Regions from separate parts of the Homo sapiens genome. Here all the other regions are reported to be linked to region 1. Evidence: microRNA targets listed by miRTarBase, many of them from high-throughput screens and not tested one by one. Region 1 holds a microRNA gene; each other region holds the end of a gene's coding sequence.
Evidence for each region. The annotated mature microRNA hsa-miR-424-5p reads CAGCAGCAAUUCAUGUUUUGAA and lies in region 1 at 1,827-1,848, opposite strand. An mRNA with a match to its seed (bases 2 to 7 or 8) in the 3' UTR can be bound and repressed. Matches are read on the target gene's strand: a 7mer-m8 pairs with bases 2 to 8, a 7mer-A1 pairs with bases 2 to 7 and ends in A, and an 8mer does both.

Region 2: miRTarBase lists HAPSTR1 as a target of hsa-miR-424-5p. Seed matches in the 3' UTR shown: 7mer-m8 at 3,425-3,431.
Region 3: the mRNA of BCL2L12 is a reported target of hsa-miR-424-5p. Seed matches in the 3' UTR shown: 7mer-A1 at 3,262-3,268.
Region 4: the mRNA of KRT33B is a reported target of hsa-miR-424-5p. Seed matches in the 3' UTR shown: 7mer-m8 at 3,122-3,128.
Region 5: the mRNA of CCDC83 is a reported target of hsa-miR-424-5p. Seed matches in the 3' UTR shown: 8mer at 2,944-2,951.
Region 6: the mRNA of MSANTD4 is a reported target of hsa-miR-424-5p. The part of its 3' UTR that is shown has no 7-base or 8-base seed match.
Region 7: the mRNA of UBE2Q1 is a reported target of hsa-miR-424-5p. Seed matches in the 3' UTR shown: 8mer at 2,724-2,731, 7mer-m8 at 1,760-1,766 and 7mer-m8 at 1,719-1,725.

Annotation. Positions count from the first base shown.
Region 1 is chrX:134,544,854-134,548,920 of GRCh38, forward strand. It overlaps MIR424 (microRNA 424), which reads right to left and starts at 1,858; the gene lies at 1,761-1,858. It overlaps MIR503HG (MIR503 host gene), which reads right to left and starts at 1,777. Exons shown (of 3, transcript NR_024607.1): 1 at 1,699-1,777. MIR503 (microRNA 503) reads right to left here and starts at 1,545; the gene lies at 1,475-1,545.
Region 2 is chr16:9,116,302-9,120,368 of GRCh38, reverse strand. It overlaps HAPSTR1 (HUWE1 associated protein modifying stress responses), which reads right to left. Exons shown (of 4, transcript NM_014117.3): 4 at 1-3,701. The coding sequence ends at 3,457. Among named protein-coding and RNA genes, the nearest start is that of HAPSTR1, 27 kb to the right of the region's middle.
Region 3 is chr19:49,672,964-49,677,030 of GRCh38, reverse strand. BCL2L12 (BCL2 like 12) reads right to left here. Exons shown (of 7, transcript NM_138639.2): 7 at 3,115-3,333. The coding sequence ends at 3,283. It also overlaps a transcript of PRMT1 not described here. Among named protein-coding and RNA genes, the nearest start is that of PRMT1, 2.3 kb to the left of the region's middle. RefSeq lists enhancers at 1-121, 126-275.
Region 4 is chr17:41,360,432-41,364,498 of GRCh38, forward strand. It overlaps KRT33B (keratin 33B), which reads right to left. Exons shown (of 7, transcript NM_002279.5): 7 at 3,067-3,522. The coding sequence ends at 3,405. Among named protein-coding and RNA genes, the nearest start is that of KRT33B, 7.3 kb to the right of the region's middle.
Region 5 is chr11:85,918,864-85,922,930 of GRCh38, reverse strand. It overlaps CCDC83 (coiled-coil domain containing 83), which reads right to left. Exons shown (of 11, transcript NM_001286159.2): 11 at 2,918-3,582. The coding sequence ends at 3,421. Among named protein-coding and RNA genes, the nearest start is that of CCDC83, 66 kb to the right of the region's middle.
Region 6 is chr11:106,006,197-106,010,263 of GRCh38, forward strand. It overlaps MSANTD4 (Myb/SANT DNA binding domain containing 4 with coiled-coils), which reads right to left. Exons shown (of 3, transcript NM_032424.3): 3 at 1,703-3,914. The coding sequence ends at 3,339. Among named protein-coding and RNA genes, the nearest start is that of MSANTD4, 14 kb to the right of the region's middle.
Region 7 is chr1:154,547,130-154,551,192 of GRCh38, forward strand. UBE2Q1 (ubiquitin conjugating enzyme E2 Q1) reads right to left here. Exons shown (of 13, transcript NM_017582.7): 12 at 3,809-3,875; 13 at 1,448-3,340. The coding sequence ends at 3,309. It overlaps TDRD10 (tudor domain containing 10), which reads left to right. Exons shown (of 13, transcript NM_182499.4): 12 at 280-350; 13 at 549-1,018. The coding sequence ends at 581. Among named protein-coding and RNA genes, the nearest start is that of UBE2Q1-AS1, 4.4 kb to the right of the region's middle.

The sequences.
Region 1 (4,067 bases):
AGAAGGGGCGTCACAAGGTGGCTCTCCCACCCCCAAGTGCAAAGGCAGGCGGATGCGGGGACCTGTTCGCCGTTTGAGCCTGGAGATTGCGGGCCTGAGGGGCCCTGCGCTGGCCGGCCGGGGCGAGGCGGGAGCAGAATGGGGATTTCTAGGCCGCCGGGTCGGGCTGGTGGGCGGCGCCCCGGGAGCCTGAGGGTCCCCGCCGGCCCGGGAGGGACCCGAGCCGCCCCCGCGCACTGCCCCGGCGCAAGGGAGTCTGGGAGAGCCAGCGTCTCGGGCCGCTGAACCCGACTCCCAGCTCTAGACTTCGGAACCCCGGCCCCACCCCAAACTGGGAAACTTCTAGGGGCCCACTCCTGGCCCCGGGAAGCCCAGTTCCAGGCAGCCCATTCAGACCAGAGGAGTTTGGGTGTCTTTTTTTTTTCTTTAAGGTGACAAAAAGTGTGGGAAAGATTCCACACCTCCCTCCCCACGCCCGCCAATGGTCCTTTACCTGTCCATGTTTCAGATTAAATAATTAGCTCAAGAGATTTGCACAGAAAGCGAATTAGCCCTTTTCTAGTCAGACTGTTAAGCTCTCAGGCGGGCAACTCGGAACCCCGTTTCCTCACCGAAGGCTCAGGAGGCCAGCCCAGTGAGGGATGGAGGTGGCTTTAGAGGGCGACAGTTGTGCAGCACTCATGAGCAACAGTGCCCAGGACTTTTGAAGTCACGAAGGGCTCCTGAAATCGACAGCTCAGGTCCCGCCCCTGGGGCGACAAAGGAGTCTTGGGGGCGTGCCGCCGGGTTGGAATTGTGGTAGCAGATTTTTGGGGGAGGAGGGCGCAAAGCAGCTAGAAACGCACATCCTCATTCTGGAACTATCCCAAGGCCCCCATGCTTCTCAGCAGGCCTCGGGCTCAGATTGGGCGGGTTGGAGCCTTCCACCCCACCTTGGGTTCACCCGCCCGCAAGGCCTCGCGCCTCACCCGATCCTTCTAGAGTGCTGGAGCTCCACGGAGCCTCCCTAACCCCCCAGCAGCGGGGAAGGGAGGGCGAGGGAGTGGGGAAGAGGCCCGTTATTTTGATCTTTCCTGAATTCTTAAGTCCCTTCCATACCCAGGACATGAGCGCGTTTACCAGGAACCGCAGAGAGGTGTAAAGACTTCTTGCAGCTGCTCACCCTTCCTCTCCCCTTACTCCTTTTCCAGTCCTCCCCACCCCCCAGCATTTCGTGGGTGGGGACTGAAGATAGGTTTTCTTCGTTGTCCTGTGGGTGGTATTCTGATTGGGAAGGGATTTTTTTCAATTGTTTACATTCTACCTGAGCAGGGAAAGGGGGTGCCAAAATGAAGCATCATTCACGTCCAGTCACATATGCAGAGACGGGGCAAACGTTTGATGCAATCTTGGGTCTCGCTGCTCCCGGGGCCGACACCGCAGGCGATGGCCTAAGACTTACCTGCTGGGTAGGCCCGAACGGCAGTCCCAGACTTACCCTGGCAGCGGAAACAATACCCCAGAGCACCGATCGCTCACTGCAGAACTGTTCCCGCTGCTAGGGCACGGCTGAGCGCGGGCACCGCGTCTCTCCTCGACTCGCACCGCCTATGCGCCCCAGCCTAGCCAGGAATACTGCCCTCCCCGGACTACAGCCCTGCTGCGTGGACAAGGGCGAGGACCCGCCGGAAACAGAGACGCGAGCCCCCGCCCACCTACCTGCTCCTGAGCCGGCCTCGCGGGGAGCGGGCACCTGGTGGCAGGAACACGCGTCCGGCAGACCCCACCTTCTACCTTCCCCACGAGGGGGTATAGCAGCGCCTCACGTTTTGAACCATTTAGAACACTTCAAAACATGAATTGCTGCTGTATCCCCTCGGAGTCAATGAAGGGGGATCGATCTGGGGGTACCTGCGGGTGAATAAAGACTGGATGACTGAAGGAAGCCCCGCCCCACCCCCTGGCAAGGAATAGGGCAAAACTTATGACTAGGCCACTTCACTCCAAGTTAAGGTACTTCTTATAACTTCACCATTTGATTTCCAGGAGCTGCAGGTGGAGCCGAAAGTGTGGCTCTCAATTTTTTCCCCTGAGGATGAATCTTGGAACAACGTAGTGGGTGAAAAGCAGAGCGATGGGGGATACGAATTAGTGTGGAAGAGAATCTAATTACTTCTGAAGGTAGACGAATAAGGTTAAGTAGAGGCAATTGGACATCTGGATCATTCTTGCCAGTTTCAAAGTCTTGGTGAAACTTCTTCCTGCTGCATATTACAAGTCTCATTCATTGTCCCCATTAAAAAAAAACAAAAAACGAAACAAAAAAACAACCTTTATTGGAAATGGACTCAGATGACTGAAAGAAAATAACCAAAACCTCACCGGTAGCTTCAGCTGATTCTTACACTATCGTTGCGACATATACATCTATCTTTAAAAGCATTAGATGTCCTAACTCACTGCTAGTGTTTTTATTCTTAAACACCCCAGCTGAGTTATTTTAAAGAGCTCCAAACAATGACAGAGAACTTTCTGTAGATGAAATACCAGTTTACATATTAAACTGGTTACTCAAACTTATTTATAATTTATACCTATCAATGTCATCTATCAAAACATAAATCAAAAAGTTTAAATACTTGATGTCAAGTCGCTCCTTCCTGTTTCAAGCAGCTCCACAGAAACTTTCATGTCCTGAAATGGCCGGCACTGCGCATACTCCTTAATGATTAACTCATTAGATACCACTTTTTCCTTTTTAAAATGGACACATATTAGCAACAAGTCACATGCATGCCCTCTTTTTGTTTGAATACAATATTCAATTAAGCATTAAAAAAAAAACCCACTCTGAAATCCTCAATCACAAACCTAAAAGTTAAAACAACAAAATCAGCACTAACTGTAATGGTTTTGAAAGTTAAATACATTTCAGCACAAGTAATAGACATTTAAATTATCCAACTGTAAGTATCTTGTTACACTTACAAATTAAGTCGGTTTTTCAAAACCAGTACAATGAATGTTAAGTGTCCTATTTATTAGTTAATAAAATGTGCAGAGTATTTAATAAGATTAAGTATCGAATTTATAACATCCAGACTGAGATCCAGTGGTAACAAATACACTATGTCATGGTAAAAAAAAAAAGTCATTAGTAACAATAACCCCATTCCCTAAATTGCGACAATCAAGTATCTCTACATTCCATCTTGTTTTGGCAATGATATTTACAAACAACTTTTACACTGACTTTGGGATTAATGGAGAAAAATGTCGTTGACTGCCCTTAAAAAGAAAAAAAAAACATGTTTAGCAAATGTACAATTATCATGTAAAACTCCACAACTTTCTCCCAACATTTTGTTCCACACAAATATACGAGCCATCATGTCAGAAGTTAAAGTCATGCCTAATTTAACATTTCCTTAGTTGACTACTTAGAAAAACAAAAGTTCATTCGAAACAGCATCGGTGTCAAAGGCGAAGGTCCCTTCCAGATTGCTCTTGGAATCAAATTCATTTATACCTTTCACCCTAACCCCTTTCATCTCTCCCAGTGATAGTACAACGAGTTACACCCCTAAAAAGCCACCTCGATCCCCTAGTTTACATATTTCCCCTTAGACTGAAATTTACTTACGAAAAGAGATTACAAAGGGGCGTCTTGTCACTTCAGGAGAGGGTCATTCACTGATACAATAGACAAAGAATCGATACTTTCGAGTTGCCATAGCCCCACCCCCTTCTGAACTGCAATGTGTTTGGCTAAATGATTTAAGAGCCAAAGAATACGCCTCTTCCTCTGTTCATACTCTACAACGTTTTGTCTTTTAATTTTGCATATGCCTTCGTCCCCCACACCCCAAACACACGATGTACCTTCTCTCGGCGCATTCTAGCCAAACTTCCACAATGTCAAGTCCCTACGGGGAAAACTAAACAACCTTTAAAGTTTTAATTCGGGAGAGACAATGTGAAATTAATCACACATTTCTTTCCAAGACATAACTAACTTCTTGCAAATAAGAGGAAAAGTTCATTTACATTCTGTCAAAACCAGTCGCTCCCGACCCTAGCGAGGCTGA
Region 2 (4,067 bases), not on the chromosome of region 1:
CTAAAACATCACACACCTCAAATATTCCAAAGGGAGGCTAGAAGCTGGCCTTATGGGGTAAGGTCATCTAAACCATCAAAGCCGACAACTTTCCAGAAGGGGTAGCAGGTACCATAAACACTTATAACTTTAAACAAGGGGTTGCTCTGGAAGAACCTTTCTAGTCACTTTATTCCACAAATCCAGAATGTATCTCTGAAGATTCCCATCCTCACCATGACTAAATACCTCAGTCACCAATCTAATGAATGAAGCACCAGGTTACAACATACTACATAAAGTAAAATGCAATGAGATTAATCTGCTGACGTAGTCACCACTAGAGGTAGTAGCCAGGCCAAAAACTCAATCATTCTGTTCATAATTTTCTAAACTTATGGCCCCATTTCAAAATCATCTCTTGGCGTCTTGCACTGGCCTCTGAGGCTGACTAGCCCTCTGGGTTGGATGTTGGCCATCCCTCTCACTATAAAGGAAGTTAGCCAGTTTTCACTGTTGAATGGAAATCTTCAGGCCCAAAGCCACAATTATTCGAGTTTAATGAGTTCCAGTAGCCCTTAGAAAAAAACATTTAGAAAGCTAATTCTTTTTTAAAAGCCTAAACTTCATTTGATTGCATCAAAAAGTTATTCAGATGTGATGACCAAAACAAAACTGCAGACAAGCCCCATGGTTTTTTTGTTTTTATTCATTTTATGATTAAGGTGTTTATCACTACTCCAGTTGGGTAAACCACATTGAAGAATCTGACTGCAGGTCTTTAGATTCAGCCAAATGCTTTCCAACAATTTTGCTCTAAAAAATATTAAACATTTTAATACTTCAGCCATGCTCAGAACGCTGCAGTCTAAGGATGAACTTCAACTTGCCCATGCCAAGTTAGGGCGACAGGAGCAGAACTAAGGAGCTATGACGTCTAAAAGAATCAGAGAATCTGGCTTAAGACGAAGAGAGCTTCTGTTCCCCAAAACTAAACTGTCTAGTTTTTAAATCCACCCTTAACCGTTCAAGAAACTGAAAAAGTCAACTTGTTTTTAAAATACCACACAGGTATGCAATCTTCCATGATTTGTTTTGCATCTCAGCTAGCACAGGGAAACCCTTGAAAAACCTAGCTGTCAGAAGTTTTTCCTGAGGGAAATCATTACGCTTCTACTGCTGAGCTTCATGTTTATTCTGTGCGTCGGGGAAAGGAGAAAGCAATGGGACAGAGAAGGGAAAAGTTGCGACTGGGTGACAAATTCATTAGGTGCATTTGAAAGTAAACGCAATGGAAAAAAGTAACAAATGCTAAAGTTTTCTAAAAGTTTAATGAAGCCAATAAGGCATATAAATTGTGTTCTGGCAGACATTAAGACCTGCTTTCTCTTACCAAAGAAAATGGCACGTTTTATCAAAATTTGACAATTCAGAGTAAAGGGTACTGAGATTAAGCTTCAGAGCACCAACTTAAACAAAACAACCAAAAAATTGTTATCCAACGTGGAAAGAGGAGCAAGAACCAAGGCATAAAGGGGAATTAAATATGTGTTCCTCCATCTCAAAATCCTTTTAGGAATAGGAGTTCTGGCCACTTGTGAGCAACACATTGCACCACCAAACCCCAATTCCAGAATCTAAATTTACGATAGAAAAACAAAGGTAACTCCAAACGCATGTCTTGTATATTCCAAAGGGAAGCTTGAAAGTATTCATAATACATAGGCTTGTCTGTTTCAGGTAAAATGACAGATTGCTATAATTCTTCCTGCTATTATAGTCAAACAAAAAATGACCCACTTTCGCAAAAGTTTAGAAATCTCTCACTTTCATTCCTAGTTTTAGTATGGAATTCACTTTTTTAAATAAGGGCTACATCTATAATGAATACAGAACTTCAATTCACACAACATTTCTAACATTCCATTCACATCCCACCCAGTCAATGAATGAACATTTATGGTTAACTCAGCAAAGTTTCTTCACAGAAAGATATTATTAAATGGCTGAAGAAATTGCAAACTTTAACAAAGTGCTGTGAGTAATTACTGGAAAAACCCTTACACTGATTTGCAATGGTCTTTTAAGGATAAAAATAGGAAGTAACTGATACTGGACTACAAGTTTGCAAGGAAACATTTTTCACTGTCCTACTTGATATATAATATAATAATATGATAGAATAAATTACAGTACCTGGCAGGCTGACATCAGTTCTTCATCTAAAAAAACACTATCATTCAGTTCAGGATATTAAAAATGAAGATGAAACATGCTCTAAAACATTGTAGCTACAAGAGGTCTTATATTTACTCAAAAGAGGAATCTATTGAGAACTTTTTATTTAGGTCTACCTAACAGCTAGAGAATCTCCATGCGATTCCATCTTTTCCAGAATGAGATTCCAAACTGAACTTTTTAGGAGAGGGATTGGAGGGACAGGGAGAGTTGGGTTTTGCTATTTTAAGTTGCAATCACATTATTAGTAGATAAAAAAGAGAGCTTTATCATCTTCCACCCATTCCAATGGAAACTGCACTAAGCAGGGACTCCATGAAAAATGTAAAATGATAGACTAGAAAACCTACCCCACCATCCATCTCCCTCTCCCTCTCACTAATACTGAACCAAAAAGGAAGCCCATTCTCAAAGTTCATGACCTCTCTACTTTAGGTCACCTCGAATGCAGTCTACATGTTTACATTTACCATAAGGAAAGTACCCCGCATGGGAAGTAGTGTTTGTCTTAAAACTGAGTACTTTAGGCCTACAGGGTTACTCTGGGGACAGTTTAATAATAATACTGCTACTTTAGAGCACTAACACACACAAAGTGAATCCAATAAAGCTCTGGGCATTGATTCAATATTTAGTATTAATTGCATGACCATCATAGCACCTCTTTACATCACACAATCACCAGAATTAGAAATTGATTTGAAAACTAAAAACAGGGCACAGTCCAATAATTAGAATTGCACACTGTTACTATATAGAAACCAGGTGCATGGTACAGTGCAGCTGCAAAAATGGAAGCCAAATCATGTTTTTAGACAATTTTAGGAACCTGGCAATACTGTTGAAGCAAAATACTCAACACAGCAGGAAATGGACCCAAAAAAAAAAAAAGCATTCTATAACCAAATAAACATCTGATATTTCCTTTCCCTTTGAGAATAAATACAGTTAAGGTCACTTTTAGCCTTGGAACGGATATATGTTTGCCTATGATGATCTTGCTAACGACTACACAATATCTGATGTCCTCTGCTAGGATTATAGTTTTAAGAAAGCCATAATTACAAGAGGCATCTACTATAAATACCTAGAACTTCCTTTTATGGCAACCACTATAGAATTCACTTGTCTTAAACAGTGAACAAGGGAAGATGGCCTCATGTTTCCTTTGCAATTATAGTATATGTTGAGGATCAAGTGGCTTTCAAGCAGCATGGTGGGTGTGAAAATGTTTGCAGTTTAGATCATTCTGTTGCGTTTATGGGTTGGTGAGTCTGTAATGACATCGCCACACTGGGCTGAGGTACGCTTTCTAGTTCCACCATTGTCCAAGTGGAGTGCCATTTCTTCTGATATGAAAGTGTTCAAATCGACATCATGGAGTCCATTTCTCCTTCGACTAGCATTCGATCCACTGCTTACATGTGTAGGAGAGCCTGGGGTACTCGAACGCACGCTTATACTAGCCATTGCACCACTAAGACCTAGGAAGAAGAAAAAAGGTTTTAGAGTTGCTCAATTATGTAACCCTTTTGAAAGCAACCCACTTACTTTCCATGTTGTCACAATGTCAAAGCATGTCTGCCTATTTCCTTTATAAGGGATTACTAGTAAGCAATTAAGTTTTATTCTGGATAAACATATCATCTGGCCTTGACATATATTTTATTGGTAATACTACCAATATCTACAATATTGGTAACTACCAATTACTAAAAGTTACTACGTGTCAACCACCGTGCTAGGTGTACAAATATCTCATTAAATTCTCCCATCTATGAGGTAGGTACTGCACAAAATTTACAGATAAGGACAGGAGACATTTGCTTTAAAGACAAGACATTTTTGGT
Region 3 (4,067 bases), not on the chromosome of region 1:
AAAACTGCCCGTCTATTGCAAGAAGCGCGACTGGTGATTGGGCAAAATCCACCAGGAATGCCCTCCCCTTTACACCCAGCACCGCCTCAAAGCTTCCCGGGGAGCCCCGCGCTAAAGGGGCGTCTTGAAACACCTGTCCATCACCAAAACGACCCGCCTCCTAATCGCTGCCATTGGTTTATCCGGAAGCGACGTCACGCAGCCTTTGGCCCACCCTCGCCAAGCGGCCGGCCTCAAGGAGAACACGGCAATTGGCCCACGGGTAGGGAAGAAGGCGGGGCTTCAGGCACCAACGATTGGCTCAAAGGAATTATCACTCCTCGTCCACTCGGTGGATCCTCCCAACCCGGGGGGAGTCTGGAGGAAAAAGGGAGCTTGTGCTCATTACCTGGGGGAAAAACGGAATCGGTGAGAGGCCCAGAGAGAGGAAGGGCATAGCTGGGGTCCCGAAGCAAGTGAGGAATAGGAGTCCGTCGTCAACACATTAAATCCCTAGCCCTTGACATAATCATTCCAAGTTTTTTAAAACCATCAACCCCTCTCAAGCCACTTGGTTTTTGCCAAGTCCCTCCCCCTGCCAGGAACGCCCACCTCTCTTTGTCTGGTCAGCTTCTAAACGTGAATCAGAGCACAGCTTAGGCACCACTTCCTCCGGGAAGCTTTCCTTGATTTGCAGAAAAAGTTCCTAGTTGAATGAAGCTGAATGCAAAGGGCCGAATGCGTGGGTCCTGCCCCTCCTCTCCCCGATCCCTCTACTTCCCTCTGCTCACACTTCTCTCCAATCCCGGAATGAGCTCGCTCTTTGGTTTCTGGGCCTCCGCGCAGGCTATACTCTCTGGCGTGCCGCTGGCAAACGCCTGAGACTTAAAATTTACAATAGGGTTCGGGCGCGATGGCTCACGGGTGTAATTCCAGCACTTTAGGAGGCGGAGGCAGGCGGATCACTTGACATCAGGAGTTCGAGACCAGTCTGGGCAACATGGTGAAACCCCCATTTCTATTAAAAATACAAAAATTACGCCAGGCGGCCGGGCGCGGTGGCTCACGCCTGTAATCCCAGCATTTTGGGAGACCGAGGCGGGCGGATCACAAGGTCAGGAGGTCGAGACCATCCTGGCTAACATGGTGAAACCCCCGTCTCTACTAAAAATACAAAAAATTAGCCGGGCGTGGAGGCTTAGGCAGGAGGATGGCGTGAACCCGGGAGGCGGAGCTTGCAGTGAGCTGAGATCGCGCCACTGCACTCCAGCCTGGGTGACAGAGCGAGACTCTTGTCTCAAAAAAAAAAAAAAAAAAAATTTGGCCGGGCGCGGTGACTCACGCCTGTAATCCCAGCATTTTGGAAGGCTGAGGTGGGCGGATCACAAGCTCAGGAGTTCGAGACCAGCCTAGCCAATATGGTGAAACCCCCGTCTCTACTAAAAAAACAAAAATTAGCCGGGTGTGGTGGTGGGCGCCTGTAGTCCCAGCTGCTCCAGAGGCTGAGGCAGGAGAATCACGTGAACCCGGGAGGCAGAGGTTGCAGTGAGCTGAGATGGTGCCACTGCACTCCAGCCTAGGCGACACAGCGAGACTCCATCTCAAAAAATAATAAAATAAATAAAAATAAAAATAAAAAAATTAGCCAGGACTGGTGGCACACGCCTGTAATCCCAGCTACTTGGGAGGCTGAGGCAGGAGAATCGCTTGAGCTCAGGAGGTGGAGGTTGCAGTGAGCCAGGATGAAGCCATTGCACTCCAGCTCGAGCGACAGACCGAGACTCTAACTTTAAAAAAAAAAAAAAAAATTGAAAAGCATGGCACTAAACAAACCAAGAAAAGGACATTTGTTTCCAGTGTTTGAGCTGAAGCAAGAGGAGCCCAGCTGCAAATATGCACATCAGGTCTTTAGCTTGTTGCAGCTCTGTGCATAAGCATTGCCCTCCAAAACACCACAAAAGCACTGCCTTAATTTTTGGGGTATGAATACATTGTAGCAAGGATGCAAATTTGCAAATAATCTACAAATACTGAGGATCAACTGTAATTGGTTCGGTTTGTAATCCTGTACATTTCACTTATTAATTTACAAACATTACTCTGTGAAGGGGGATATGGCCCTATAAAGGAGACAAACCGCCCAGGCACAGTGACTCATGCCTGTGATCCCAGGACTTTGGGATGCCAAGGTAGGAGGATCACTTGAGCCCAGGAGGTGGAGACCAGCCTGGGCAACATAAGGGAGACCCCATTTCTACAATTTTTTTTTTTTTGAGACGGAGTCTCGCTCTGTTGCCCAGGCTGGAGTGCAGTGGCGTGATCTCAACTCACTGCAACCTCTTGCCTCCCGGGTTCAAGCGAGTCTCGTGCCTCAGCCACCCAAGTAGCTGGGATTACAGGCACCCACCACCATGCCCGGCTAATTTTTGTATTTTTAGTAGAGATGGGGTTTCACCATGTTGGCCTGGCTGGTCTTGAACTCCTGACCTCAAGTGATCCACCTGCCTTGGCCTCCCATAAAAATTCTTTTTTAAAAATTAGCTAGGCGTCGTGTCGCATGCCTTTAGTTCCAGCTACTAGAGAGGCTGAAGTGGGAGGATCACTTGAGCCCAGGAGGTTGAGGCTGCAGTGAGCCATGATAGTGCCACTGTATCTATATAACAGTGCAAGTATAGGCAACAGAGCAAGACCCTATCTCCAAAAAAAAAGGGAGAGTGGGGGGTGTGTGTGAGACAAACCACTGGTCTGTAGGTAGATGAGAAACCAGCAAGAGAGACTTGAAAGGAGCAATGGGAGGAGAAAAACAAGAAGAGGGTGGTGTCCTAGACACAGGTGAAGTTAGACTGTACCTTTCTGTGGAATTCACTGGAAAGACTCCATGACCATCATACAGCATTAGCTAGAATAACCAGATCGTGCAATAGGAAAAAAAAATGCAAGTTGCTGGAATATTTACAGGTATTCTCTCAAATATGTTACATGTCCAGGAGACAGGCTCTTGTAGGTGCTGCAAATAAATATTTCTAGAATGAATGAACTGGTTCTTTCCTCAATTTGCGTAAGCCACAGAAATCTCTGAACCAAATCTCCTCTCCTTAAAACTTTAGTTCCCAAGTGTAAGAACAGACAATTGAATACTTTGTAACGTTTTTAATAAGAAAAGTTTTAAACAATTTATTTTTGGCAAAAACAGGTAGGGCAACCACCACCCCACAGCCCTGAGTGGAATAGGAAGACTTGGAAAAGCACACGAAGAGGGCAGGGACATGAGGTGTCATCTTGTAGCAGCTTCTGAGAAAGAGCTCAGTCCAATGGCAAGTTCAAGTCCACGGGTGAAACAGCCAGGATGCCCTCCTGGAAGGGAAAAGTGGCAGAGCCCTGTGAGCAGGGCAGGTGTTCCCCCCATACAGCAGCGTCCACATCAGCCCTGTGAGATTAGAGACGGGAAGGCGAGGAACCAGAGAGCGGAGGGTGACAGACACCCAGACAAGGGGACAGAGACCCAGACAGAAGGGCACAGGGATGAGGGGGCAGGGTCCTAGCAGGAGGAGGAAAGGTTGAGCTCGAGGAGGGTCAGGACACTGGAGTGGGATTAGACAGAGATCCAGAGAGAGTGAAGAGTTGGGGGACAGAGTCAGAGATGGGGAAGAGAGTCTTGGGATTTGAACAATTCAGAGTCGTGGCTTTGTGTACAAATCCAGATTCCAACACTCTGCATGCTGGGGACTTTTCCTCTCTGCCCCCACAAGACGAGGACAATAAGAGCCCCATGAGGTTGTAGTGGGTTTAAATGGGATCATTCCATTGAAATCCCTAGCAGAGGACCTGGCCCACCGAGAAAACTCATCTGCTATCAATCCTACTTTAAAAAAATTTTTTAAGAAATTGTCCAGGCGTGGTAGCTCAGCCTGTAATTCCAGCACTTTGGGAGGCCGAGGTGGGTGGATCACTTGAGGCCAAGAGTTCGAGACCAGCCTGGCCAACAGGGCAAAACCCCGTCTCTGCTAAAACTACAAAATTAGCCGGACATGGTGGTGTGCGCCTGTAACCCCAGCTACTCAGGAGGCTGAGGCAGGGAATCGCTTGAA
Region 4 (4,067 bases), not on the chromosome of region 1:
AGCTGGGAAGCGTAGCCTCTGGCAGAAGCCAAGAGTAAGCATTTTGAGGGAGGGAAATGTGAGAAAGGAATGTATGCTGAGTGAGGTGGCCAAATGCACTATTTAATAAGCTACAGGAGGAGTCATGAATATTTATGAAAAGACAAATGTAAGCATGTGCAATTGAGCTTCATGCCTCTTCATGGGTCGCATGTTCACAAATGGTGGCATTAGCATGATCCAAGGATGGAGTTTTTGGCCCTCTGATGTTGAAAGGTGAGGCAGAGGATGTGAAAACCCTCACCGCACATCCTCTGTAGACTGGCCAGACCACTCCATGGTTGGTGGTCTCTTATCAGGAAGGAATGCCAGCCAGTTGGTTGCTGTGTTGAAACTGCAAAAGGCGGGAGGAAGGAATCCAGTCACAGCTTCAGATGATGGGCTAAAGGTGATAAAGGAATGATTCATCTGTTTCTTATTTTCCAGAGCTGGTTTCTGCTTACTCCTTAGGAAAGAATTCTGGTTAAAAGTTAATAAGGAGGGGGCATACTGAGGCATGTCTGACCTCCCATCCTGTCATGGTCAGGGACTCTGTTTTTTTCTTTCTTTCCTTCTTTTTTCTTTTTCTTATTATACTTTAAGTTCTGGAATATATGTGCAGAACGTGCAGGTTTTTTACATAGGTGTACATGTGCCATGGTGGTTTGCTCCACCCATCAGCCCATCATCTATATTAGGTATTTCTCCTAATGCTATCCCTCCCCTAGCCCCCCACCCCCCAAAAGGCCCCAGTGTGTGATGATCCCCTCCCTGTGTCCACGTGTTCTCATTGTTCAACTCCCACTTATGAGTGAGAACATGCGGTGTTTGGTTTTCTGTTCCTGTGTTAGTTTGCTGAGAATGATGGTTTCCAGCTTCATCCTTGTCCCTGCAAAGGACATGAACACAACCTTTTTTATGGCTGCATAGTATTCCATGGTATATATGTGCCACATTTTCTTTATCCAGTCTATCATTATTGGGCATTTGGGTTGATTCCAGGCCTTTGCTATTGTGAACATTGCTGCAATAAACATACATGTGACTCTGTTTTTAAGGTTTCTCTTCGGTCCCCTTGGCCAAGACAGAGTCCGTTCAGTCAGCTGGGGGACTTAGGATTTTAGTTTTATTTCTCAGTGGTAACACTGACCCTTCCCAGATACTTCAGAAGAGCAATTTGGCTTTGTCCTGAGAAAAAGTGATCTCCCTGACACTCCTTTCTTTTATCCTCCAAGGAGAGCACCATGGCAGAGATAAGAACTAAGGACTGTTTTCCCTAGACCCATGTTTTCCGCTGACACAACATCAAACATAGAAACAAGTTTTGCTTAATATTTTATAAATTGAACACTAAAAACAAAGTGTATTTACTGTGTTGAGAACTTTGACCTCTCACTCACAAAGCATGCAACTGGGTATTTGGGAGGCACTGTTCCTGGTGAAGGTAGCTGAGAGGTAACTATCAGTGGACAGTAATCCCAGCATGTGTGGAGAACTGCCGGGATAAATTGAACAAGGGCGGTTTTCATGAGGCATGCAGGTAGCTCCAGGGAATGAACTCTCCCTGAGGAAAGAGAGAATAGAGTCCACAAACTGGGTCTAAGACATTCTGAGCAGAGGATGGAGTATCACTCAGACGGTCTTCCAAGGTCTCCTGTCTAAGCTGCAGCAGCATCAACAACAAAGGAGTAGATATTAAGTGAACTAGAATATGAGAGCACAAGAATTTAAGACTGGCCAGGTGCAGTGGCTCACACTTGTAATCCCAGCAATTTGGGAGGCTGAAGTAGGCAGATCACTTCAGCCCAGGAGTTCAAGACCAGCATGGATAACCCAGCGAAACCCCTCTCTACAAATAATACAAAAATTGGCCATGCATGGTGGTGCATGCCTGTAGTCCCATGTACTCAAGAGGCTAAAGTGGGAGGATAGCCTGAGCCTGGGAAGTTCAAGGCTGCAGTGAGCCGTGATCATGCCGCTGCACTCCAGCTGGGGTGACAGAGTGAGACTCTGTCTCCAAAAAAAAAAAAAAAAAAAATTTAAGAATTTAAGACTGACATGTGATGATGGAACCGGCATCATCACAGCAGGGGAGATAGTATCAGCTTCATCTCAAGGAGAGAAGACATAATTAGCAGATTGGTTAATCTGGGAATAATCTGCAGACTGAGGGAGTGGCCTTGGCACAAACCACAGCATGCACAGTGATGGGAGCCATTAACCTTGGTTAGACATCAGCAGGCACCAGTAGGGGCCAGGCACCAGTACCGTGGTCACTGTTAGCATTTGCAAACACCTGACTTGTAATATCCTAATTTGATTCTAAATAACTTTGAGGGGGAGGGTCCCGAAATTCATATGTAGTTCCCATGGTTAAACAATTCAAGTGAGAAAAGAAACACTTTCAAAATAGGTTGGGTATTGCTCAAATATGGAAGATGGCAAGGTGGTGCTTTTTAGTATTGAGTTATTCAGTATTTCACAAAGGAGAGTTTCAGAGATGTTTTGAGCACTAACAGCATTGTGTCTCCCCAGGAGGATGTATAAGCTCTGGGTGCTTGTTTGAAATCAATTTTGTCCTCTCATAATCACACCTCATGTGTAACTGACAAGCAGAGAGTGAACTCTGGGTTCAGTCCTGCCATTGATTCTTCCTCACTGTGAGGAAGAGAAAAAATTAGTAGCACAATTCCTGGCATTTGGTAGGTGTTCAATAAATATTAACTTCTGTCATCCCTGCTAGGGACTTAAAAGAATGAGTGGAACTGTCTAGAGATGCTCACCGTTGCATTTTACTGAGTAAGGTCCCATGAGAAATATGTTTATCATATTCAGACGAGGCCTCTTGTCCTAGTGATCCTACTTGTTTTATGCTGGCCTAAGTGGATGCTGGGACTCACTGTGCTTAATGAATGTTAATGAAGGTGATGAAGACCTTTTAGGAGATGATTAACCTATAAAGTCCTCCTTCTGCTTTCAAGTGGCTTTATAAGAAGCACACAGAGAGTCAACACTTTGAAAAGAATGAATACAAATGAGAATCATGTCTGCTTTGCAAGAGGAAAGTTTATTAGGCGATTTGGGGAACTGCAATAAAGGTAGAAGCAGCAGAGAGAACAAAACACCTCGTATGCCACTGTCACAGCTCCAACCTCTGACCATCAGAACTCAGACTGACTACAGGAGAGGGACCTGGGGTGAGGAGGATCAAGTAGCCCTAGGCTCAGAGTCAGACCCAAACGCTGGGCATTTGTTCTCCTTCCAGACCATGATTTGTGGTGATGCCTCGGGGTGGGGTCCGGTGGCTGATGGTTGTCAGAGAGGCAGAACTGGCCCACCGATGGTAGTTCTGTCTTCATGCTATACTTCTGCTGGCCCCAGGGTATCTAGTACCCAAAGGTGTTGCAAGGCCCACAGCGGGAACGAGGACCACAAGGATTGGTGACACAGGATCCAATGGGCTTTTCACATGCATTGGTGGTGGCGCAGGGGTTGGAGGGCAGCCTGGGATGCAGAAGCATTAGACTGTCAGCATGAGAAGGGTGATTCAAACAAGGGAGACTCAATCCAAAGAGACACAGAAACAAGCAGAACCCGTTCTCTGATGTCCTAGGAAGCCATGCCTTGTTTGGATCACTCCTTCTACAGAGTTCTGATACAGTGGCAGAAATGAGCAAAGAACATGTAAGGTGGAATCCCAGCCTTCCTTGTATGACCCTAGACACACAAGAAAGTCACTTCCTCCTTCTAAGCCTCAGCTTTCCCACCTGTAAGGTAGGACTGGTAGTACCAACCACACAGGATTATGAAAATTCCACAAGACTGTGTTCATAAAAATATTATGTTCGCTGGCAACTGCTGTACTGTTAGTTATTGATCATCAACCCTATTGACACTCAAATGCTCATCTATAAGAAGGTGATAATGATTCCCACTCTGCCTGCCTCAGATGATTCTAACAAGAATTAATGAAACGGTGGATTTGAAAGTTCTGTTTAAATCAGAAAAAGTGATCATTGTTACAGTTTCATTTTCCTTTTTGTGGTGAC
Region 5 (4,067 bases), not on the chromosome of region 1:
CCTTTGAGACACAGAGATAAGGGTAGAGAGTGGATCTGGGATGGTCAAACAGAAGCACACATACATGCAACAATTTTATACTCATGAATGACTAATAGGTATCTCAATAGATGGATCTGTTAGGGAATGGAGTAGAGTGGAAAAGAGGCCTGTGAACCAGGTGCCAAATTAAAGATTATGGAGAAGAGTGATGAGAAGGGTTAGAAATTTATAGCAAAGAATAGTAGTAGAGGGTGATATATATACTGAGCTTCAAAAGGCATGTTTTTACATGAGACTGGTGGAATTGTGGTCTAGAAGAGGCATTGCATTAGTGAAAGCATGTAGCCCCACAGAAGGTGGTGGCAGAGAAGAATCAATACCAACCACTAGAGAGAGAGCCACAGGGGAAGTGAGCTCTTTCTGGGGAAAGCCAGGTGCCAGTCAAAACCAGAGAGTAAAAGAAACCTTCAACAGGCTGGGCATGGCGGTTCACATCTATAATCCTAGCACTTTGAGAAGTTGAGCCAAGAAGACCACTTGAGCTCAGGAGTTTAAGACCAGCCTAGGTCACATGGTAAGACCTCCCCCCCCCCCGCCGCCCCACACCATCTCTACAAAAAATAAAAAATTAGCTGGGCATGGTGGTGTGCTTCTGTGATCTCAGCTATTTGGGAGGGTGAGGTGAGAGGATCCCTTGAGCCTGGCAGGCTAAGGCTGCAGTGAGCCATGATCATGCTGCTGCACTCCAGCCTAGATGACAGTGAGACCCTGTCTCAAAAAGAAAAGACACCTTTGAAACTGCCTTTGCAAAATTATGACCAAGACGGCGAAAGAGATCTAATTTAATTGACTCCATCTTGCTTCTAATCTCCAAACTGTCCTTTTCATTCTTGGGCGGAGGGTCAACTAACTTTGGGAAAAACTTAGTATACAGTTTAAAACAAAGATGATAACAGCCCTTTCCCAAAGCAGTCTTCCTTCTTGCCTAGGGAGTAGATTGCATTTGTAGGACTAACATTAGCCACAAGATTAGAAATTATGGTTTGGGAGTCATGCAGCTGGAGGCTACAAGATTCTGACTGTCTCTAAACTGCTCCTAAGATCAGTGCTTGAGATATTTTGCAGACCCTGCACATCATGAATCAGCTGGCACTACCTAGATTGATAAACTGGCTCATCTGATCTTGTGGCCCCCCCATCTAGGAACTGATTTGGTCAGGAGGACAGCTTTGGCTCCCTATGATTTCATCTCTGACCAATCAGCAGTCCCGGCTCACTGGCTTCCCCACATCTACCATGTTGTCCTTAAAAACTCTGCTCCCCGAATGCTAAGGGAGAATGATTTGAGTAATAAAACAACGCTGGTCTCCCGCACAGCTGGCTCTGTGTGAATTACTCTTTTGTCTGTTGCAATTCCCCTCTTTTTTTTTTTTTTTTTTTTTTTTTTGAGGCGGAGTCTTGCTGTGTTGCCCAGGCTGGAGTGCAGTGGTGCGATCTCGGCTCACTGCAACCTCCGCCTCCCGGGTTCACTCCATTCTCCTGCCTCAGCCTCCCAAGTAGCTGGGACTACAGGCGCCTGCCACCACACCTGGCTAATTTTTTTGTAATTTTAGTAGAGAAGGGGTTTCACCGTGTTAGCCAGGATGGTCTTGACAGGATGGTCTTGATCTGCTGACCTTGTGATCTACCCGCCTCGGCCTCCCAAAATGCTGGGATTACAGGGGTGAGCCACCATGCCCGGCTCCCCTGTCTTGAGGAATTGGCTCTGTATAGGCAGCAGGCAAGGTGAACCCCTTGGACATTTACACCTTCAACAGTGGCATTTGTCTTGTTTATTGTTTTTTTAGAGGTTGTTGTTGGAAGTTTTGGGAGAGAATGGGAAGGGTCCAGGAAAGCACCGAACACAATGGAGATTAAAGTACAGGAGAGGCCGGTCGGTGGCTCATGCCTGTAATCCTAGCACTGTTGGAGGTTGAGGCATGATAGTACAGACCTGCAGTCCCAGCTACTCGGGAGGTTGAGGCAGGAGGATTGCTTGAGCCCAGGAGTTTCAGGATGCTGTGAGCTATGATAGTGCCACTGCACTCTAGCCTGGGTGACAGAGTGAGTCCTTGTCTCCAAAAATTGAGAAACTCAAAGATGTTCAATTGGTGATGGTACTACAATGTAAGGGGTGTTGGGAAAGATGACGAGTGTTTTCAACTTCTACAATGAAGAGTGTTAATGTAGCAGCATTTGAGATTGAGGGAGCAGGAGTGCTAACATCCTGTGGGCTCAAGACAGTGCTGCACAATTGTCCTTACTTTAAATGCCAATAACATCCCCCACTGATGATTAAATTAATCCTTATATCACTAAAGATTACAGAAATATGACATATGGTGGTATTATCTGGTCTCAAGGATCCAAATGGAATGCTGATGTCACATCCAGGTACTCACAGTGTCCTTGGCTTGTGGTAGCCCTGAGAGAAGTGGTATTTGCTTTGGATAGGAATGTGGTAGTTTAGACTAGATACAGCTGGAGGGAGGGAGTGCTCCCTATCAGTGGAATATTTTTATACAACAAATTAACACTCTCAAGTTTATTTCCAACATTCATTTTTTATATTCATTATAAACAGGGTGATATGGTTTGGCTATGTCCCCACCCAAATCTCATCTTGAATTATAGTTCCCATAATCCCCATGTGTTGTGGGAGGGACCTGGTAGGAGGTAATTGAATCATGGAGGCAGGTTTTTCCCATACTGTTCTTGAAGTAGTAAATAAGTCTCACAAGATCTGATAGTTTTATAAATGGGAATTCCCCTACACAAGCCCTCTCTTTCCTGCCACCATGTATGATGTGACTTTGCTCCTCATTTGCCTTCTGACATGATTGTGAGGCCTCCCCAGCCATGTTGAACTGTAAATAAATTAAACCTCCTTTATAAATTACCCAGTTTCAATTATGTCTTTATTAGCAGCATGAGAACAGACTAATACACAGGGTTAAACTACGGAGAATTGGCTTGCATTATAGACTGGCTGTCTATCACATTGAGCATCCTCAGAGGGAAAGATGTGTAGACAATGCTATGCAAACTTCTAAGTTTTTCTTAGAAACATTTCTAATGGAACTATTTCATACTGGAATCACAGATTAATCAGTGAATTTTTTGTGTGTGAAAAGGAACCTCAGAGACTACCTTGAACCCACTGTCATGCTTCTGAATACTTCAGTGTAGAAATACAAAGCGTGCTTCCGTTTTGGTCACTCATACCATGCAAGTAAATGAATAGCTGAATACCTTTGATTTTAAATGTAAATATGACCTTTAGAAATAACAGCTGGTTTAAAAATGAGCCAAAGTGTAAGTAAAATGGGCAACGGATATACTTCAGTTCCCAAAGAACATTTATAAGGAAAAGTTGTGTTTCCTTTGCAGCTTTCCGTCTTAGAGAAAAGACTTCATCATCTTATATGTGATGTGGCTTTCTGGGCTCCTGACATCTTTATAGAGTTTGACTGGAATTTCCTTCTCTTGAAAATGAATGGGCATTTTCTTGCTCTCCACACTCATAAGCTTCACTCCCAGGGGGCCCAAGTTTACATAATCCTATGGTGAACAGGCACAAAAAAGAATAGGAGAGGTGATTCAGCAAATTACCAGCTTGATAGATTAGGCTTTCTTTATTACAGTTGGCCTTTATCTGACAGACTTCATTGCCCCCTAATTGCCTGATGCTGTGTAGCACATGAAATATGAGAGCCACTATAAATGGGAAAAAAACAAAATACTCAGGAAACTTATATACCCAGTAGGGCATACACAGTAGGCAAGATCTTCCAAAAGCAGGCAGCAAGGCTGGAAGGCTTGTCTCATAGTGGGTTAATGGGGGAGGGATGCTGGCTATAGTTAGTGCAAAACTAACTATAGTCTGTGAAAGGAAAATAAAAACATGGGACCCCAATTCACTTTGCCAAAAGGAAAAAATTAAGCTGAAAGCTGAGTCATGTAAGCAACTGCCTTTGCTTTTGTTCCTAAGCAGATATGTACAGATAAAAGGTTAAATATCCCCACAGGTAGCTACTCTATGTTCA
Region 6 (4,067 bases), not on the chromosome of region 1:
CTGGAATGAACCAATCCAACCCATCTGCACCTGAAGCAGGTTAAGAAACCCAAGGCTCTTCAACCAAAGCCCTAGAAGATATTATGCTTCTTTTTAGTTTCTCATTTCTAGGCATTTAAGACTGCTCTATCCAAAAATAATTATTAGCTATTTTCATGCTTTCCCTAAGAAATTAAAAGCTGGCCAGCATGGTGGTTCACACCTGTAATCCCAGAAGCTTGGGAGGCAGAGGCGGGTGAATCACTTGAGGTCAGGAATTCAAGATCAGCCTGGCCAACACAGTGAAATCCCGTCTCTATGAAAAATACAAAAATTTGCCTGGCGGCTGGGCGTGGTGGCTCACGCCTGTAATCCCAGTGCTTTGGGAGGCCAAGACGGGTGGATCACGAGATCAGGAGATTGAGAGCATCCTGGCTAGCATGGTGAAACTCCGTCTACACTAAAAATACAAAAAATTAGTGGGGTGTGGTAGTGGGTGCCTGTAGTCTCAGCAACTCAGGAGGCTGAGGCAGGAGAATAGCGTGAACCCGGGAGGTGGAGCTTGCAGTGAGCTGAGATCGCGCCACTGCACTCCAGCCTGGGTGACAGAGTAAGACTCTGTCTCAAAACAAACAAACAAACAAAAAAATTCACCTGGTGCGGTGGTGGTGGTGGTGCTTGCCTGTAGTCCCAGCTACTCAGGAGGCTGAGGCAGGATAATCGCTTGAACTTGGGAGGTGGAGGTGCAGTGAGCCAAGACTGCGCCACTGCACTGTAGCCTTGGTGACAAAGTGAAATTCCATCTCAAAAAACCCTGGATCTCAAATCCAACATTAATACCATCTTTCATTTAAGTAGCATTTTATAGTTTATATACTTCTACCATTTTCTTTAAAAAAACAAAACAAAACAAAAAAAACTATGTAGCACAGGCAGAGTAGGTATCATGCCCCAGTTACAGATGAAACCAAATTGAAGAGCAAGTTAAATGCCTTTCGCAAATAGCAAATGGCAAAGCTACAATACTTATAACTATACCTACAAACTTTCACCATTCCTTTTCCTTAGAGCTCTTATGCTAAAAACTTGGGTCAATATTAGTATGTAATTTTTAAGAAAGATGGTTAATTAAATCGATGAGGCTTTTTTTTGTTGTTGCTGTCATAAAAGTGGAGATAACATGATGTATTAGTCCGCTTTCATGCTGCTGACAAAGACATACCCAAGACTGGGTAATTTATAAAGAAAAAGGTTTAATGGACTCACAGTTCCACGTGGCTGGGGAGGCCTCATAACCATGGCAAAAGGTGAAAGGCATGTCTTACATGGACACAGGCAAGAGAGAAAATGAGAACCAAGAGAAAGGGGTTTCCTCTTATAAAACCATCAGATCTTGTGAGACTTACTTATTCACTACCATGAGAACAGTGGGGGAAACTGCTCCCATGATTCAATTATTTTCCACTGGGTCCCTCCCACAACACATGGGAATTATGGGAGCTACAATTCAAGATGAGATTTGGGTGAGGAAAGAGCTAAACCGTATCACCTGAGTTAGATCTCAAGGGTTCTTTTGAGGAGCAAATAACATATGCAGCATACATAGCTCAATGTCCAGTCCAAATGTTATTTAGGCCTCTGTCCTCACTGACTGTGACAGGGCTCTCTTCTAAGCTTGATAACCTCTACCCTTAGAGCACTGAGTATCATCTGAAATTACAAATTCTCAGATAGTATAGGCAAATTTATTTCTATGGTAGAAGCATTTATTTCAGATATAGAAAAATAACACTATTTCAAAGTCAGAGTAAGTAAACAGAAGTATATTTTTTCCTTGCATACCCATCCTCAAATGTCAACACACAGTTTCCAGCCATTCTTACAAGGAACAAATGCAAAATTAAAGTAATAACTGTCAACAGAAGAGCTGTATTAAAGCTACGTATCAACCTTGAAAATCAGAAAACACAAAGTGATCTAGTGCAGTGATTCTCAACTTTAGTGTGTATCAGAATCACTTGGATTGTGGAAAAAGCACCTTCAGAGAGCTGAAGGAAAATCATCAGGTCAAGCAAGCCCTTGGTCTCAGAATAAATATCAAAGAGACTAAAGATACGTGCTTTGTTCCTCAGGGAAGAGGGAAGGACAAAATATACTACAATATAGAAGATCAGCCATTTACTCTGTGTCACTTCTCTGAGCTTCACATTCAGAAATAACGACAGATACAACTCTCAAGAATTGTTCTACATATTAGGTTAGATAGTGTAATAAGTGCTTCTCCAATCCATAATACATACCTACTATCATTATTTCAACATCATTATTATTTGATACGGAGTACATCTTCCCCACCTACCCCCTACTCCCAAATGGCTGCTATTACTTATTTTAAAAGTCAAACAATCAGTCATTGGGTTCAAGCTCATGGACTACAAGTACCATTTTTATACTGGTATCATTTTTACTAGCTTCAACTATTCACTTATAAGATTTCAGTACATTACTGAAATGACATTTTTGTACCCAAACTAAGACAATGACTGAAAGAAAAGGAACTAAAGCTTTAAAATTGCGTCTTGCTTCTAAAGCATTAATAGTGAGAAAAAGAATTCTTTTCAAAGTGACCCATTTTAGAAAATTTCTGATGTTCTCTGTATTGTTTTCTGAATCTGAGAAGGCTATTTATAGATGGAAACATGGGAATAAAATACCTATAATCTTCATCACTTCCTATATTCAATATACTACACAGTAACATTTCATAGTTAAAGTTTTTGGCCATTTAAGTACCTACCCACATAAATATCTGAGGTTTTAATATTCTAAAACTATAAAACATAGCTATAGAGGTACACAGTTAGGCTAGGACAGGGTTTCTCAACCTCAGGACTAATGATATTTTGGGTTGGAAAATTCTTTACTGAGTGTGGGGGGGTGTTGAGGAGGTATGCATTGCACAGTAGCAACCTTTTCCCCACCCCAGTTTTGACAACCCAACATGTCTCCAGACATCACCAAATTGGTCTTCTGAAGGCCAAAATCTACCCCAGATGAGAACTTCTGGGCTAGAATTTTATATGGACATAATTGTAAACTCTGGGTACACAGACAATACAAGACTCTATGTAATATTATAAGGTAAAGAGTCCAGCACAGTAAGTTTCTGCTATACTGTTTACGCTAGGGCACAGCTTTTATATACTACTTAGGCATACAGTTATCCACATATAACTTTTTCCTACTGAACACTGACATTAGACAAGAAACCACAGCTAATCCAGCAACCATCATTATATCACCTGATATGAGAAAAATCTAGAGTTTTCAAACATTTGCTAAATGGAAGCCTGGAAAAATCACTGCAAGTGTCCTTCTTTCTGAATTCGAAGTCTGTCTTTCTCTACCTGTAAGCGTTCCTTTTCAATCTGCAGCTTCTCAGATTCAAACTTCAAAAACTGCAGCCTATCCTTTTCCAGTTGCAAGCGTTCTCGCTCAAGTTTTAACTTCTCTGTTTCTATGTCCTGTGGTTGAAGCATGGATTTTTCTCCTTGACCAAGTTCATTTTCCAAGGACGGTTTCTCTGAATTGACTATCTGTAACCTCAACTTTTCTCTTTCAATCTGCAGCCGCTCCTTCTCTAGCTGAAGCCGCTCATGTTCCATGTCTAAATGCCGCAGCCTCTCTTTCTCGATTTGTAGGCGTTCCTTTTCTACCTGCAGCCTTTCGGCCTCGATATCCAGTCGTCGTTTTTCCAACTCTAGTTTCTGTTTCTCAATATTTACGAGCAAATGAGGCTCATCATATGCAGATCTAGATGGTGTTGAGTTAAGGGTAAAAAACTCATCAATGTGGGGGAAATCGGGAAGTTCATTTTCTCTCCTGGAATCTGGTATGACGGATGACAACATTTCTTCCTCCTCCTCAATTTCAAACTAAGAGCAAAGAGAAAAGCAATTTTCAGTATTGACTTCTACTTTGTGGCAATTTGTCTAAATATTTCTTAAAAGCTTTCTGCGTCGTTTGGGGAAAAATACTTAATTTGAATTTTGAATATCATTTACACTGAATTACTTGATGTCTGTAAT
Region 7 (4,063 bases), not on the chromosome of region 1:
TTCTCATTAAAAATCCCAGATCCCTGTAATTATTTTAACAAGTGCCTCCTCCCTTTATCTGCTGTTATTTTGCCCTCCCCCTATGCTACCTTTTCAGCATTTATCATCTCATTTGATCCTGGCAGCAGGGATTTAGCAGGAACTAGCAGAGACTTGCTGGTTGGAGCTGGTTGGCGGCCAGAGCACTTTCCCTGCAGCCCCCGCCTTTTGCTTCCCTCCTTTGCTCCTCCTGCCCAACCCCGTGCCACTGAGGTTTTGTTGTTGTGTCTTGTTTTGCAGACATTTTGAGTTCGTATGAGGTTGTCCATCGAATCCTCAAAGGGAAAATCACTGGTGCTTTGAACTCGGCGGTAACTGCTCCTGCATCTAACTTGGCTGTTGTCCCTCCACTCCTGCCCTTGGGGTGTCTGCAGCAGGCTGCTGCCTAGGCCTGGACACAGTATTTACCTGGCATTCTTTTAGATCAAACGAACTGGTTATCTGAGGGGTTGGGTGAACTGGCTCGGGTGGGCCTTCCTTCCCACCAAGGCTTTGTCTTTCTCTTCCAGTTGCACATCCTAAAGTTTGAAGAGTCTAAATAACGGGGCTTCCCTCAGCATGTTCCCTCTCCTGTTTGCCACGGATCCAGAGGCCACCTGCCCTGTCTTCTCGTACCCCTTTCACTCTTGAGGCCTGGGAGGTGAAAAAGGCCAGACTGTGCCCAGGATTGATTCAATTTTGCTTTTACTCCCAGCTTCCCTCTCAAAAGAGAGTGAAGTCTCATTTGTCATGTGTCTTCAGTTCCCCAACTTGGCATGAACATTTGAACCAAACATAGGAAACTACCATTAGGTTGAAAGCCTGAGGCAGCTGGGATGGTCTTTCTTGTGTCTCTTCTTTGCACCCCAGAGCATGATATAAGTGGTCCTAACAGATTCTGGATAATGGAGAAGCCCTCTGCTGGTTTTCCTGGCATTCCATGTAGAATAGGTAGAGAATATTTAACCAATGAGCAAATAAATGTTGGCATGTTTCATGAGTTTGGAGTGATTGATACTTCTTTCCAGCCACCCTTCCACTGCCCTGCCGTGCCCTCTAAAACTGCTGCAGTGAGATTAGAGCCTGCCAGTGTGGGCTCTGGGCCATGCAAACCCTGCCTGGGATATAGATACATGTTTGAAGTGTAGGGGAACAACCTAAGAGTTAGTTTCATTATTTCTCCTTGCCTTCTAAGTGGAGAGAAGAAAATTGTTTCATGATGATATGGCCTTGTTTCTTTTTTATACTTTGTACTTTATTAGAACCCTAAACTTAAGGTCATAAAAGGGAGTGCTGGGTTTGGCAAGAAAAATGGAGGATTCTCTTAGAGTTAGTTGGTGTTATGCAACTCACAGGGGCAGGCATTTCCCTCTATGTCAAGTGAACAGGAACCCCACTGTTTCTTCAAATAATTTTATTAGAGCCAAACTATTTAAATAATTTTATTTGTTTCATCCTTTGGTAGATGAGAAAAATACATTACAAAATACATTATACAGAAGACAGCTCACAGTACACATTACTAAAAACACAATCTACATTCCAGCCAGGGCTGGTGGTAAGTTCAGAAGAAAGCCACAGAGGCCTTGAAAACCAGATTTCAGCTCTATGGAATGAATTTTCCCCTTATGTCCCGTCTTTATCTCAACCTCAGCATGTTTTATTAGCACCCCTAATTAGGTGGGTGTGGGTAGAGTTAGAGCAGCATTGAGTGGGACTGGTGGACTCTCCATCCACCTAAAGCAGCAAACATTAAAAGTCCCTCAAAAGAAAAGGGGTAGGGGAGGGGAAAGAATGGCCAATGTGAAAATTGCTGTGTCTCAAAGCATTACAGAACTGCTCTAGCATCCTAGTTCCCAGGCAGTTGTCCCAAGTCTGGGTTTTCTGAGACTTGGGTCTTCACTTGGCCATCTTTGGCCTCTGTCATTTCACTGTTAATGAGAGCTGCTGGCATCGTAGGTCCTAAGAGGCTGAGTCCCAGAGCAAGCTTACAGACAAAGAGATGCAGGCAGCACCCGCTAGATGCAAAGTCATGCCCAAACTTTTACAACAGCAAGTACATACAACACAGCACTGACAGTTCCATCTCAGTACAGACTCCCCACCTCATCTTCCCTCCCTGGCAGTTCCTGAGCCTGGGGTAAGGACACAGGTGTATAGAACAACCCCCCTTAAAATGCTAACCCTTTCTAGTAGGACCCACCTTGTGGGAGTGGCTTGAAAGAATCCATAATTTCCCAAGCCAAACAAATTCAGAGCTAGGTCTGTTCTTTTTGATAAAGCCAAATGAAGCAAGAGAGAGGGAGGTGAGCAAAGCTTACCAATGATCACCATCCAGTGCTGGTTAGAAGCCACTTTCCAGGAGAGGAACCAATGAACAGCGAAGAGTTGCAGCCACACAGCTGAGATCAGAAAAGACCACATACACACTTGGAGACTGTGTCCCCATCCCCACTCAATTCATTCAAAAGGAATTCTACGAAGCAGCCTCTTGAGCCTCATTTTCTTTTTCTTAGAAATTTGAAAACATCTGTGACTAGAAAAGTAGTCCTAAGAATTAACACCATCGTTTCAGCCTACCACATTGTAGTTTGGCAGGCCAGGCTCTGCATTCCAAGGGGGCAAGTGCTGGTTGCTCCAGAGGCCTTGAGGAGAAATCTAGGGGCAGACCAGGTGTGTGCTTCAGCTCCAAGTTTCTCTTGCTTTAGCAGCAAAATGCGGCCTCTCATCTCTACCAAAGCAACAGTGGACTCGTACCCCTCCCCACCTCCCAAGTAGTTCAGGGGATGGGGTGGGATGTGCGAATAAAAATAAAGATGAGTCAAGACCAGCATCTTCAAATTAACAAACTGTAATTGTTTTCCCAAAGATACATTTTTTTCATACACATCCATCATACACTGTAACCAAAAAAAGCAGTGTACATGAAATAAGAGAAAATAAATTAAAAATCCATAGCATAGGTAAGGAGGCTCTAGTCTGGAGCACAGCTGAGTTTCCAGCAATATAAGGAGGCTCGAAAGTTTCTTTTATAAGAATGCCTGCTAGCAAGGGTTCCAGCAAGGTGGTTGGTTGGTCTGTAAGTCAGTCTTGAGTACTTGAAACAGTTCTGTGTTTGTTTTTTTTCCTTAGCGTTTAGAATAGCCATCATTGTCCTGCAATAGGCAGAGCTATCACGTCCAGGAAAAATGAGGGAGGGAACCACAGAGGCAGCGTGAGATCCAAATACAGCATTCAAAGGTAATTGGTCCAGTGGTGCCTGGGGAGGGAGGAAGGGTGATACTCCAGGGTTAGCCGTCTTCTTTTGGGGGTGTGTACCAGCCTGCAAAGAAATGGAATGGTCAGTGAGGTGAAGGTTCAGGCCCACCCTCCCTGTCCTGCCCCAATCCCTGAAGACGTCTCCAGTGGCAGAGATAAGAGGATATTGGGGAGGGCTATGCTGTGTGGGGAGAGGTGTATGGGAAGCTGAGAGCCTGCATACCTGGAGATGAGAAGGGGGAATGATGTGCCCAACCTGAGATGATGGGAGAGTTAGATGAGCTTTTTCAAAAGGTGGTCAAGAAGGGGGTAGCACCAAGTTTATCGGTGATACGATCATTTTGGTGTGTTTCTGGAAGAGGTTGTGAATGTTAGCCACCGCCAGTCCCTCCTGGGAGAACTGGGGCAGGTGCTGTGTTAATGGGTGGTTGAGTATCAGAAACCAAAAGAAGGGGTTCTTGCTCTGTGGCTGGAAGTGAAAACCTGGGTGTGGCAAGTGTCCGAATCTCCTGAGTCCTGGCTCCAGCCTCACCGTTTTTTTCGTGGATCTGCACCAAGGACTTGTAGGACTGCTGTGCTCTTGTCAGACTGTATTGAGACTGGGGAGAGGAAGCCACCAGATCAGGCCATGGCTAGCTGTGGCCTTACTGCCCCTCACCTTCTGCAGGCTGTCACCCAGAGACCCCAGAGTCCCAGCTCCCAGCACTGTGGTCTAGTAAAACACTAAGTACCCTCCACCTTCGAGGTCCCTTGGAGGCATAATCCCATAGTCTTCCTTTTCCAGACC